4 separate regions of the Homo sapiens genome follow, and all the other regions are reported to be linked to region 2. Evidence: microRNA targets listed by miRTarBase, many of them from high-throughput screens and not tested one by one. Region 2 holds a microRNA gene; each other region holds the end of a gene's coding sequence.

The links. Region 2 holds the annotated microRNA hsa-miR-8081 (CUUGAGUCGUGCCUUUCUGAAUG, at 1,298-1,320, opposite strand). A microRNA usually pairs through its seed, bases 2 to 8, with sites in the 3' UTR of a target mRNA and lowers its output. Matches are read on the target gene's strand: a 7mer-m8 pairs with bases 2 to 8, a 7mer-A1 pairs with bases 2 to 7 and ends in A, and an 8mer does both.
Region 1: miRTarBase lists RPS16 as a target of hsa-miR-8081. Seed matches in the 3' UTR shown: 8mer at 662-669.
Region 3: miRTarBase lists BCL2L15 as a target of hsa-miR-8081. Seed matches in the 3' UTR shown: 7mer-A1 at 2,105-2,111.
Region 4: miRTarBase lists MRPS21 as a target of hsa-miR-8081. Seed matches in the 3' UTR shown: 7mer-A1 at 2,556-2,562.

The regions. Positions count from the first base shown.
Region 1 is chr19:39,430,762-39,433,924 of GRCh38, reverse strand. It overlaps RPS16 (ribosomal protein S16), which reads left to right. Exons shown (of 5, transcript NM_001020.6): 3 at 164-260; 4 at 356-403; 5 at 507-788. The coding sequence ends at 652. Among named protein-coding and RNA genes, the nearest start is that of RPS16, 3.6 kb to the left of the region's middle. RefSeq lists an enhancer at 2,362-2,481.
Region 2 is chr9:106,599,147-106,602,309 of GRCh38, reverse strand. MIR8081 (microRNA 8081) reads right to left here and starts at 1,382; the gene lies at 1,288-1,382. All of the region lies in intron 8 of LOC107987108 (a long non-coding RNA gene), which reads right to left.
Region 3 is chr1:113,878,703-113,881,702 of GRCh38, reverse strand. BCL2L15 (BCL2 like 15) reads left to right here. Exons shown (of 4, transcript NM_001010922.3): 4 at 563-3,000. The coding sequence ends at 580. The region is part of intron 3 of AP4B1-AS1 (AP4B1 antisense RNA 1); the gene reads right to left. Among named protein-coding and RNA genes, the nearest start is that of BCL2L15, 7.4 kb to the left of the region's middle.
Region 4 is chr1:150,307,728-150,310,890 of GRCh38, reverse strand. MRPS21 (mitochondrial ribosomal protein S21) reads right to left here. Exons shown (of 3, transcript NM_031901.6): 3 at 1,912-2,843. The coding sequence ends at 2,663. Among named protein-coding and RNA genes, the nearest start is that of PRPF3, 12 kb to the left of the region's middle.

The DNA of each region.
Region 1 (3,163 bases), not on the chromosome of region 2:
CTCTTCTCTGGGTCTGTAGAGGGCCTTGGAGTGACACCCTGACCCCCATCCACTAGTACTTGAAGGCCAGTGGTGGCAGAAGCCACAGAAACAAGAAGCCCAGTGAGATGGCTAAGCTGCCCAGCATGTAACTTAAATCCCTGTTCATTCCCCATTCCTTTAGCTGCTGGAGCCAGTTCTGCTTCTCGGCAAGGAGCGATTTGCTGGTGTAGACATCCGTGTCCGTGTAAAGGGTGGTGGTCACGTGGCCCAGATTTATGGTGAGTCCCAGGAACTGGGCGCATGGAGGAGGTGGCTCTGGGAGGGAGGCCTTCACAGCGCTCCTGTACCCTTTAATTGTGTGTCTTTCTCACAGCTATCCGTCAGTCCATCTCCAAAGCCCTGGTGGCCTATTACCAGAAATGTGAGTGAGCATGGGTCCTTCCCATGAGGTAGATGGGTGTGTGGGGATCAAGTCAAGGACTCTGTGTGATTATCTAAATCCTCGTCCCTGCTCTTCTTGCCAGATGTGGATGAGGCTTCCAAGAAGGAGATCAAAGACATCCTCATCCAGTATGACCGGACCCTGCTGGTAGCTGACCCTCGTCGCTGCGAGTCCAAAAAGTTTGGAGGCCCTGGTGCCCGCGCTCGCTACCAGAAATCCTACCGATAAGCCCATCGTGACTCAAAACTCACTTGTATAATAAACAGTTTTTGAGGGATTTTAAAGTTTCAAGAACTGTGTGTGGCCTTATGTGTTGGTATTGGATGTTTAACCAGACAGAAATCAGTAAACATCCTGGACCTATTGCCAGTCTGGATTTTGACCCTCCCCAGAAGTGGTCGCGCTGGGCTTGGTGTGGGTGAGTGGAAGCAGAAGGCAGGGGGTCTCTGTCTCTACACCTCCAGTAGAGTCCAGTGTGCAGGCAAAGCTGAGATGGCAGTCGTTTGGGGCCATTAGTGGCTGCAGACCTTGGCGGATATATGGCTCATCCTTGTGGATGTCTATTTTTTTCAAGCCCAGCCTCCCAAATAGCTTGGATTACAGGTACCCACCACCACGCCATGCTAATTTTGTATTTTTAGTATCGATGGGTTTCACTGTGTTGGTCAGGCTGGTCTCAAACTCCTGACCTCAAGTGATCCGCCTTCCCGGGCCTCCCAAAGTGCTGGGATTACAGGCGAGAGCCACCACCCCCAGCTGAATTTTTGTTTTTGTAGAGACAGGTCTCACTATGTTGCCCAGGCGTGGTCTCCTGACCTCAGGCAATCCTCCTGCCTCATCTTCCCAATGTGTCCAGGTTACAGGTGTGAGCTACCATGCCTAGCCAATAATCTTTAATACAAAGAAAACAAGGAGAGTCGGGCACGGTGGCTCACGACTGTAATCCCATCACTCTGAGAGGCCAAGGCTGGTGGATTACAAGGTCAGGAGTTAAAGATCAGCCTGGCCAAGATGGTGAAACCTCATCTCTATTAAAAGTACAAAAATTAGGTATGGTGGCAGGCGCCTGTAATCCAGCTACTTGGGAGGCTGAAGGAAAGAATTGCTTGAACAGGCGCCTGCCACACCCAGCTAATTTTTTTTTTTTTAAGTAGAGACAGGGTTTCAACATGTTGGCAAGGTTGGTCTTGAAATCCTGACCTCAAGTGATCACCCGACTCTGCCTCCTAAAGCGCTGGGATTATAGGCGTGAGCCACTGCACCCAGCCTAATTTTTGTATTTTTAGTAGAGATGGGGTTTCACCATGTTGGCAAGGCTGGTCTTGAACTCCTAACCTCAAGTGATCCTCCTGCCACAGCCTCCCAAAGTGCTGGGATTACAGGCATGAGCCACCATGCCGAGCCCAAAGTGGCATTTTGGACAGGTAACCGGGCTGTGGAAGACCCCAGGTTCTTTTTTTTTCTTTTTCTTTTTTTTGAGACAGAGTTTTGCTCTTGTATCCCTGGCTGGAGTGCAATGGCGTGATCTCGGCTCACCGCAACCTCCGCCTCCCGGGTTCAAGCAATTCTCCTGTCTCAGCCTCCCGAGTAGCTGGGATTACAGGCGCCTGCCACCTTGCCCAGCTAATTGTTCTATTTTTAGTAGAGACGGTTTCACCACGTTGGCCAGGCTGGTCTGGAACTCCTGACCTCAGGTAATCTACCCGCCATGGCCTCCCAAAGTGCTGGGATTACAAGTGTGAGCCGCCACACCTGCCCCCCCCCCCCCGCCTTTTTTTTTTTTGGAGACGGAGTCTTGCTCTGTCACCCAGGCTGGAGTGTAGCTGCACAATCTCAGCTCACTGCAACCTCCGCCTTCCGGGTTCAAGCAATTCTGCCTCAGCCTCCTGAGTAGCTGGGACTACAGGCAAGTGCCACCACACCTGACTGATTTTTGTATTTTTAGTAGAGACGTGGGTTTCACTATGTTATCCAGGCTGATCTTGAACTCCTGACCTCAGGTAGATCCCCCTGCCTTGGCCTCTCGAAGTGCTGGGATTAACAGGCGTGAGCCACCGCGCCCGACCTAGAGCCCAGGTTCTTGACTACTAGTTTAGGTTGTCACAGATCTGCTCAAGAGGCCCCATCTCTACCCTGTGGCCCCTCAACATGAGGAGCTAAGGAGTCAGGGTGGCCGCTTGTGGGAAAAGCACAAGAGGCTGTGGGACTCAAGCGGTGCCTGACAGCCTGGAGGAGTCAGGTGGACTCCTTGGGGGAGAGGACATGGGAACCAGGGTCTGCTGGCCGGTAGGAAGAGTAGCCAGGGAGACCATGTCTGTGATGAGTTGTTTTCGGGTGTCTGTGGCCTCAACTTGCTCATTCACTTTCCTTGAACACCTGTGCCGGGCCATGTGCTCGTCATGGGGCACTGAGTGACCACAGCCCTCTTCCCCCTCCCAAGGAGTCACAAATGACGCAAGGGTTGCTGCCGGTGCTGGAAGAGGAGTTGGGCTTCAAAGCACAGTGCATCCTCAGCGTTTTGTATAGGTGCTTGGAAACGGACTTAAGCAAAACAAGCAGATCCTGTAATAACAGTCCTTTAAACAAACTGGTTTCCTTATACGTCGTTTCGCTTAAGGTCACGGTTTCCCAGAACCTATTGATGACGTTAAGTGAGGACTTCGTTGAGTGGCTAATGACTCATAGGAAGCGAGTGAACTTCATTGTTTGGGGAGCGCAGAGATTTCTACTTCCTAGTTC
Region 2 (3,163 bases):
ACCTACCTTGATACCACTGTCCTTACTTTTGCTAGAGATGTCAGTGTCAGACACATTTCTCAGTGCCTGTTCTTGATACCCCTTTCCTAACCCCATTTTTGGCTTTGCTCTCCCTGTGAAAACTTTACAACTGAAAGAGGTTCCACTACATGACACAAAGCCAAAGGCAGGACAAGGGACTGCAAAGGCTCCTACAGCAAAGTCTGCAGTGTCATAGGACAGAGGGAGTGAGCTCCATCACCCTTGGCACCTAAGCAACAAGAGGCCTGGCCTAGTTTCATACACCCCAGAGAACCCTTAACTAAGCAGGTGGTCACACCAACTTGAGACTGTGCTTCAACTGTATCTGTGTCCTGAGACTGTGCTTCAACTGTATCTATGTCCTGAGAAAAGCCAACCATGTCGTTATGCATCAGCCAATGCAGTGCAACAGAATAGTACATGCTTTGGAGCCAGGGCTACTTGGCTTGGAATCCTGGTTCTACTCCTTGCTAACTGTGTTACCTCAATCAAGTTTCTTAACTTTTCTGAGCCTCAGTTACCTTATCTATAAAATGGGGGTAATTGTACCTGCCTTTCACTATCATTGTAAGAATTTAGAGATAACAATTATAAAATACAGGACATTGCATATAACATACAATATATCGGGTTTATTATTATTTATTTTTCCTTGCTATTTTTGTCATTATTATTGTCATGACAGGGCCTTAATGTCCAGATTCTAGCAAGAATAGTGAACATTTCAAATATCCAGGCAGCTCATTTCTTGAGAGATGGACCACAGGCTTCCTCACACACTAGGCTGGTTGCTCAGTGTTGTAAATCACCACTTGGCTTCCTGCCTGAACTTTTAATCTTGTCCCCATCTCAATTTAAAGAGGGTGAGAAAGCAGAGACATCAATCGTTTCCTTGTCAAGGACAACAGCCCCTTCCTTCTTCCTTGGATCTCTCCTGGGGACCCATCTGCCTGGTGCCAAGGGAGGGGGCTGCTGCTGAATACAAATCACCATGTGGTGGGGGAGTCTTGTGCTTCTATATCAGCCAGGAGCCATTTCACCATCCCTGTGTGAGACTCCAATGAGCCCAACCCAGTCCTCCCACTGCTCCTGGGGTTAAGCGCCCCACTGCTTCACAGTCACCCTGGATAGTGATGTAACCATGAAGATGGCAGTTACCCAAGGTACTGGGACACAGACTTTATTGATTTGTTCTTCTAATGTATTAGGAGGAAACAGGAAACCTCAGGAAGGTCATAAGCGACAATTGTGCATTGACTGGCACAGACATTGACTTCATTCAGAAAGGCACGACTCAAGTGGCCTTGCTTTCAGAGAGGAGGGGGGCCATAGAGGCAAGACTCAGAAAATAAAGACAATAAGCACGAGCTGGATCACAGGGAATCAGAAGGAACTGAAGAACCTAACGCTCAAGCTCACACTTGAGGGAAAGTCTTTGTTCAGTTCCTGGTAGAGCCAGATGTTCAATCGATGTTGCTAAACAATTGGATGAAGGCATAAACCAGCAAGGGTGATCCCCTTAGAACTTCCTCTATTGATTTTCTGGGCACCTCTGTACCATTTTCCCATTTGATTCTGTGGTTACATGCCCTTCTTTCCATCTCTTTTTCATGATCTTTAAAGCTGAGCCCGTCAGATAACTTTTAATGGACTCCCGCTGTTTTCTTCAGCTTTCAACCTCTTGCGATGCGCCCTGTAATCACTGACCACTGCAAAAATCAGAATGGCACATTTGAAGATCTCCTGGACTTCCTGTACCCTCTTTTCTTCTAGGTCTGTGTTCTGGATATTTGGGGTTTACCTCTCAAACGTTTTGCCTTCCCTGATGATTTTATTAATGAGAAGTGCCGTCTTTCTTCAACGGTTATGGTTATTTCAACTTTATCATCCAATTCTCACTTTCTTGTGAGCAATTATTCCAGATGAGCATTTGAGTTAACTGGGTGTGCCTCCTCTACAGATAAGTCTCAGCCATTCCGTAAAAGGGAAGTTGAGATTCTCGGGTATCAGGTTTAAAACACTGAATCTTTAAGACAAGGTGAGGTTTACTTTCAAAGCATGGTGTGGAACCTCCTAAAGAAAACTGTCTATGAAGCCATATCTTTCTAAATGTTTGGCTTTAATCAATTCAGCAGACTTTTGGATAGGATCCTAAGGTCTCTTCTAACCCCATAACTACAGTTAAACCATTAATCCAGAACTCAGTGGAACATTGCAGTTTTTCTAGAAACGGTTCTCTACTGATTATTAATACTGAAAAACTATAGACCACCAAGCAGAGATGGACCTTCAAACCACTCTTTTGTTTAGGCTTTTGTGGGCTCTGTACAGGCAACAGATCTCCAGTCCTGGTTTTAGCATCCATGTAAAACACCATCTTGGCAGAAGGAGAAGCAACAGAAAAGTGCTATCTCCAGTGAAAGACGTAATGCGGGGGTTTACTCATAAGCAGTGTAGAGATTAAGGACAAAGCCTTCTGTACAGCTCAGATTCTAACACACGGAGGTGATTAGTCCCAGCTCTGCAAGCTACTCTCTCTGTAACTTAGGCACATGACTTAAACTTTGTAGCCTCATGTTTACAGGGGATTACTAATAAACTAATAATGGCCTCATGTTTAAAAGGGATTACTAATAAACTGTTTTGGGAGTGCTATGAAGATAAGCAGACAATGAATTTTAAATAGCCAAGCACATAGCAACTGCTCAATAAGAAATTGTTGGTTTCCCCCTCCTGCCCAGGATACCAGTGAGTTCTGGACTAATAATTTGGCTTCAATCATAGACTCATGGGCTTAGAAGGAACCTTAATATCATATTTTAGTATAAAACATCTAATATTTATTAACCACTAACTATGTGCCAGGCAATGTGATAAACAATTTGAAAATAATATTTTATTTATTGAGATAACAGATATTATACTCATATTTCAGATGAGAAATATGAGAAAAGTGGGGCTCCCATGTATTAAATAATGTTCCTTAGGTCATGCAGCTAATCACTGATAAAGCAGAGATGCACATCTTGGACTTTCTCACTCCAGAGCCCATTCTCTTAACCACATTGTTGTAAGAACATTTTAGAATGAGAAATCAGTGGTATGACTTTAATAAGCTAAAAAATCAGTGAACTGTAGAGTC
Region 3 (3,000 bases), not on the chromosome of region 2:
TTCATGACCCTTTTTGTAAATTGGAAACCAACAGGAAAACAGGCTTCCCTATTTTGCTGAAAATGCCTAGATTTTCTTGCCATGGAAAAATGGAGCAGACAGAAGCTCAGCCTGTGGATGTTGGACTCGAGTCATGCTACCTTAAATATTGACTGCTGACTACTGTAAAGCTAATCTTCATTTCCTACACATAATCATCTATAAAGTATATTCATGATAGAGTTCTAATTTCAGCCTGGCTTCACTCCGTTCCTTTGTAAATTTCTGGGTCTTTTTTTCCTAACTTCTCTATGTGTGTGTTAGGGAAGTCAGAATCACCTTAATAGTATCTAAGAAAAAACAGTCTTTGCTGTAGTGGTAACTATATAAGGTATTCTAAGCCCATGTTTTAGTAATCATCAGAACTTATGCTGTCATAGAGCACTCCTTTCCATTTACAGGGTCAGTGAAAGCCTTAATAAGAGCTACATTTCCTGGAGCTATCTGCAGATCATTTCCTGGTTTCTTAGGAAGTTCCTGAAAGCAATTCCTTTGACTGTAGGATTTTCTCTGTCTTCCCTAGGAAAATCTGGAGAGCTGAAGAGTTGGAGCTATTCACGAGACTGAACATCACTTCCTTGTTGACTGATTGGGTGATTGATTCCTGGGAATTCAAACAAACAAATAAAAAAGCACTTTTTTCATTTTATCAGAACTGAACTTAGCTGAATAAGTTATTTTTTACTGATTGTTAAAGTTGGGAGCAGCTGCCAGAGGCCTGCAGAGTTGGTTTTTGTTTTGTTTTGTTTTGTCAACTTAATGCAAACCACAGAGATTTTCTACTTTCTGTTTTCACATGAGTTTTAATGAGGTTCTGTTGAAGCAAAGACCCCTAGACACAAAGTAATGACTTGTTAGTAGTGGAATTATAAGCAACAGGGCAGGCCTTTGCTGGAGGTATTTTGAGAGAAAGGGAGAACAATGGAAACTATTTCTTCAGATGTAGCCCTGTCTTTTGGTAAGAATTGTGCCTACTAATTTTGCAATTTAAAGGATTTCAGGAAGCTTTTTGGTTGAAAAATCTTGTTTTTTTTTTTTTAGACGTAGTCTCACTCTGTCACCCAGGCTGGAGTGCAGTGGTGCGATCTCAGCTCACTGCAAGCTCCACCTCCCGGTTTCACTCCATTCTCCTGCCTCAGCCTCCTGAGTAGCTGGGACTACAGGAGCCCGCCATCACGCCCGGCTAATTTTTTGTATTTTTAGTAGAGATGAGGTTTCGCCGTGTTAGCCAGGATGGTCTGGATCTCCTGACCTCGTGATTCGCCCGCCTTGGCCTCCCAAAGTGCTGGGATTACAGGCGTGAGCCACCACGCCCGGCCTAAAATCTTGTTATTTTAAGTTGAGCATTTTCATTCAAAATCATCCCTAAACTTCATGTTAATTTCACCTGAGAAGGACTATTTTATGCATTTTAGAGGTTGGAAGCAAAAAACAAACAAACAAACAAAAACAGTTGTTTCTACTAGGAAGGTCAAAGAAAATAAAAGTTACTCCATTTTTACTGCCACAGGATGCAGGAAGTGCTGGCCCACATCTAGGACAGCAAGGCCACCCCAGCTTAGATGAAGCTAGCTGCATAACACAAAGCTTTAAAAGTGTGGTTCACACACCACTTGTGGACCTTATTGAATTGCTGATTCGCATTCCTAGAGATTCTGATTCTGTAGGGGTAGGCTGGAGCCTAGGAACCTACCTTTTAAACTAGTTCCATAGGTGATTCTGATGTACATATAGAGTGTGACAGCCATCACTATAGAGAATAGATTGATAAATTACAACCCACGCGTCAAATCTGGCTTGCTGTCTTATTTTGTAAATAAAGTTTTATTGGAATAGAGCAACATTCACTTGTTTACATATTGTCCATGGCCGCTTTTGTGCTACAATGGCAGAGTTGAATGATTATAGAAGACCATATGGCTGGTTAAGTCCAAAATATTTACTAGCTGGCCCTTTACAGAAAAAGTTGGCTGACCCCTTCTCTAAATCAACATTTCTCCTTGGTAACTGAAACTCTATTACAGTCCTGACAATTCCAGCAAACACAGCTGTAGATAGGGTTTAAACTCAAAGATATTTAACTCTTCTTTGGGAACTTAGTCTCCATATGTTTGTTAGTTCTTGCATAATCCACAGTTTCTCTGGGTCTTCAGCCAATCAGAGAGCTCTGTAGCTCCTGAGTAGTCCATTTCTCTGGCCCTACAAGTGAGAGTGATTGGAAGCAAAGCTTATGATTTGTATGATCTTGTATCTCAAAATAGTCCTTAATGATCTAATAGATTAGTAGGCAGTCATCAGGTAGAGACTCCAAAAACCAGACTACTTTCCTAAATATCAAGAAGAAAGGCATTGCTACAGTGATTCATGAAAAGCAGCATTAATAACTTTGGCTAAAGTTTAACAAAGCTAACCACTTCCCCTCTATCAGCCAGCCATCTATGTATCTCCTCTAAATGCAGAGAAGTAAATATGTAGTGCTGTTAATACATTTTTGCTTTTTAAAGTTATGCTTTGTCCTGGCGCAGTGGCTCATGCCTGTAATCCCAGCACTTTGGGAGGCCAAGGCGGGTGGATCACCTGAGGTTAGGAGTTTGAGACCAGCCTGGCCAACATGGTGAAACCCTGTCTCTGCTAAAAATACAAAAAATTAGCCAGGCTTGGTGGCACGTGCCTGTAATGCCAGCTACTCAGGAGGCTGAGGCAGGAGAATCACTTGAACCTGGGAGGCGGAGGTTGCTGTGAGCTGAGTTCGCGCCATTGCACTCCAGCCTGGGCTACAAAAGCGAAACTGTCTAAAAAAAAAAAAAGAAAATAAATAAAGTTATGCTTTTTCCTCTATTCCTAGTTAAATCACAACAAGTTAGTAATCCATAAATGATGTGTCCTGTTTCTCTTTAGTAGAAATTATATTTTTGGCTACCAGTTAAGAAACTTGTACTCCTTTGTCCCTTATGTTACTAT
Region 4 (3,163 bases), not on the chromosome of region 2:
CTCATTGCAAGCTCTGCCTCCCGGGTTCACGCCATTCTCCTGCCTCAGACTCCCAAATAGCTGGGACTACAGGCGCCCGCCACCATGCCCCGCTAACTTTTTTGTATTTTCAGTAGAGACGGGGTTTCACCATGTTAGCCAGGATGGTCTCGATCGCCTGACCTTGTGATCCGCCCACCTCGGCTTCCCAAAGTGCTGGGATTACAGGCGTGAGCCACTGTGCCTGGCCAGCACCAACTTTTAAAAGAGACCGAGTCTTGCTCTGTCGCCAGGCGCGATCTTGGCTCACTGCAACCTCCACCTCCTGCGTTCAAGTGATTCTCCTGCCTCAGCCTCCCAGGTAGCTGAGATTACAGGCGCCTACCACCACGCCCAGCTAATTTTTTTGTATTTTTAGTAGAGACAGGGTTTCACCATGTTGGCTAGGCTGGTCTCAAACTCCTGACCTCGTGATCCGCCCGCCTCAGCCTCCCAAAGTGCTGAAATTACAGGCGTGAGCCATGGCACCCGGCCTGGCACCGACTCTTAATAATAGCAACACGGCTGTCAGCCAACCAATGGTGGAGGAAACAGCAGGAGAAAAAGCAGAGCAGCTGGTCTTCCCACAGTGGTCAGTTTCCGCAGCTGTCAAGAGTAAAATAATCAGGAGTGACTGCTGGGTAGAGGCAGTGATGGTGGGAACCTCCACTTGAAGTCTCTTTGAGTACTGCAAAGGGCAGTGGTTGTAACTCTAGCAGGCATCAGAATCACCTGCAAGGCTTGTGAAAATAGATTGCTGGGCTCCAACCTCAATTTCCAATATCGAAGATCTAAAGTAGGGTCCCATAATTTGCATTTCAAGCAATCCCTCTGGTGAAATTGATGCTGCTGATCTGACACTTTGAGAAGCACTGCTTTGTGGGTATTTCTGGCTCTGTGCCATTCTCTCTCAACGCTCCATTCCCTCTTTCCTACTATCTACTGAGTCCCACCCATCTATTGCTTTATTTCTTCTCCACCATCCCTCTCTTAGTCTCTGTTAGGAAAACTAAAAGGACAGAAAACAGGAATGAACATTAGGGTAGATTTAAGAATTTCTTTGGGCAAGGATTCCAGCACTCTAGTCTGGTTGATAGGTGTTTTCAGAAGCAGAATTTATTCCAAATACATACATGCATCTTCTCCTCTCTACCTAACATGGAACAGTTTAATAAAAAGTAATAGATGCTTTCTCAGTAAGATTTTGCTTGGGGATTCAAAAAAATTGGGTAGGAAATGGTAGACATATTTCACTACATTAAAAAAATTTTCCGGCCGGGCGCAGTGGCTCACGCCTGTAATCCCAACACTTTGGGAGGCCAAGGCAGGGGGATCACGAGACCAGGAGATCGAGACTATCCTGGCTAACACAGATAAACCCCATCTCTACTAAAAACACAAAAATTAGCCGGGCGTGGCGGCGTGTGCCTGTAGTCCCAGCTGCTGGGGAGGCTGAGGCAGGAGAATGGCGTGAACCCAGGCGGCGGAGCTTGCAGTGAGCTGAGATTGTCCCACTGCCCTCCAGCCTGGGCAACAGAGCGAGACTCCATCTACAAAAAAAAAAAAAAAATTTACCAGCCAGGTATGGTGGCTCATGCCCATAATCCCAGCACTTTGGGAGGCCGAGGTGGGCGGATCACCTGAGGTCAGGAGTTCGAGACCAGCCTGGACAACATGGTGAAACCCCGTCTCTACTAAAAATACAAAAATTAGCTGGGCGTGGTGGCAGGTGCCTGTAGTCCCAGCTTCTGGGGAGGCTGAGGCAGGAGAATCACTTGAACCCAGGAGGCGGAGGTTGCAGTGAGCCTAGACTGCACCATTGCACTCCAGTCTGGGGGACAAGAGCGAGACTTCCTCTTAAAAAAAAGAAAAAAAAATTCCTTACTTCTCCTGGACTTTCAAAAAAGTTTTTATTGTAGTAAAACACAAAATTTACCATCGTGACCATTTAAGGGTATAGTTCAGTGGCATTAAGTACATTCAACTTTTTGAGCAACCGCCATCACCATTCATCATCCATCTCCGTTTTTTTGTTTTGAGATGGAGTCTCACTCTGTCGCCCAGGTTGGAGTGCAGTGGCATGATCTTGGCTCACTGCAACCTCTTCCTCCCCAGTTCAAGCAATTCTCCTGCCTCAGCCACCCAAGTATCTGGGATTACAGGCGTGCACCACCACGCCCGGCCAATTTTTTTTTGTATTTTTAGTAGAGATGGGGTTTCACCACATTGGCCAAGCTGGTCTCAAACTCCTGGCCTCAAGTGAGCCGCCCGCCTCAGCCTCCCAAAGTGTTGGGATAACAGGCGTGAGCCACCATGCCAGGCCATCGTCTCCTGAACTTTTTCATCTGCCCAAACTGAAACTCTGTACCCATTAAACAATAACTCCTCACTGCCCCCTCCTCCAGTCCCTGGCAAATACCATTCTACTCCTAGAGTACTTTCAGACTCAGTTTCTTCTTTCACTTAATAAAAGACAGGGTCCACTGCTGACTAATGGGATTGTTTCTATATTTGGAGGCCTTCTTGCAGACATGTGATTTGAGTTTATTGCAGAGAATGGTAATAGGAAATGGGATTGTACAAAGAAAAGAGATGGAGAGAAAACTGGATGAGGGTTTCGCACTGGGTGTCCCACCCACAGGCCTCAGCAGCCCTGCCACGGATCTGCCCGATTCTTTCGCATCAAGAAGTTGATCTTGCGAGCCATTTCCATGTTGTAGATCCGCCGGCACCTTTCATAGCTTTCCCTCTGTCGCCGGCAGCATGGCTTCTCATAATACCGCCGATGCTTAATGTCCTCAATGAGCCCATCCATAGTGAGGATTCTGTATAAAGGCAAGCAATGAGGTTAGACATTTGGGATCATCATTATTCTTTTCCAGTTTCATAAATAGAAGTCGATTGACCAAACAATTGGTATTTATAAAAAATACAGTGGGAAATGGTGGCAATAGAGCATTAACTGCCTACTTACAAAGGCCTCAATAAGAATCTGTGGGCCGGGTGCAGTGGCTCATGCCTGTAATCCCACCACCCTGGGAGCCCAAGGTGAGCAGATTGAGCCCAGGAGTTTGAGACCAGCCTAGGCAACATGGCAAAACCCTGTTTCTACAAAAAATAAAAATAATTAGCCAGGCTTCGTAAT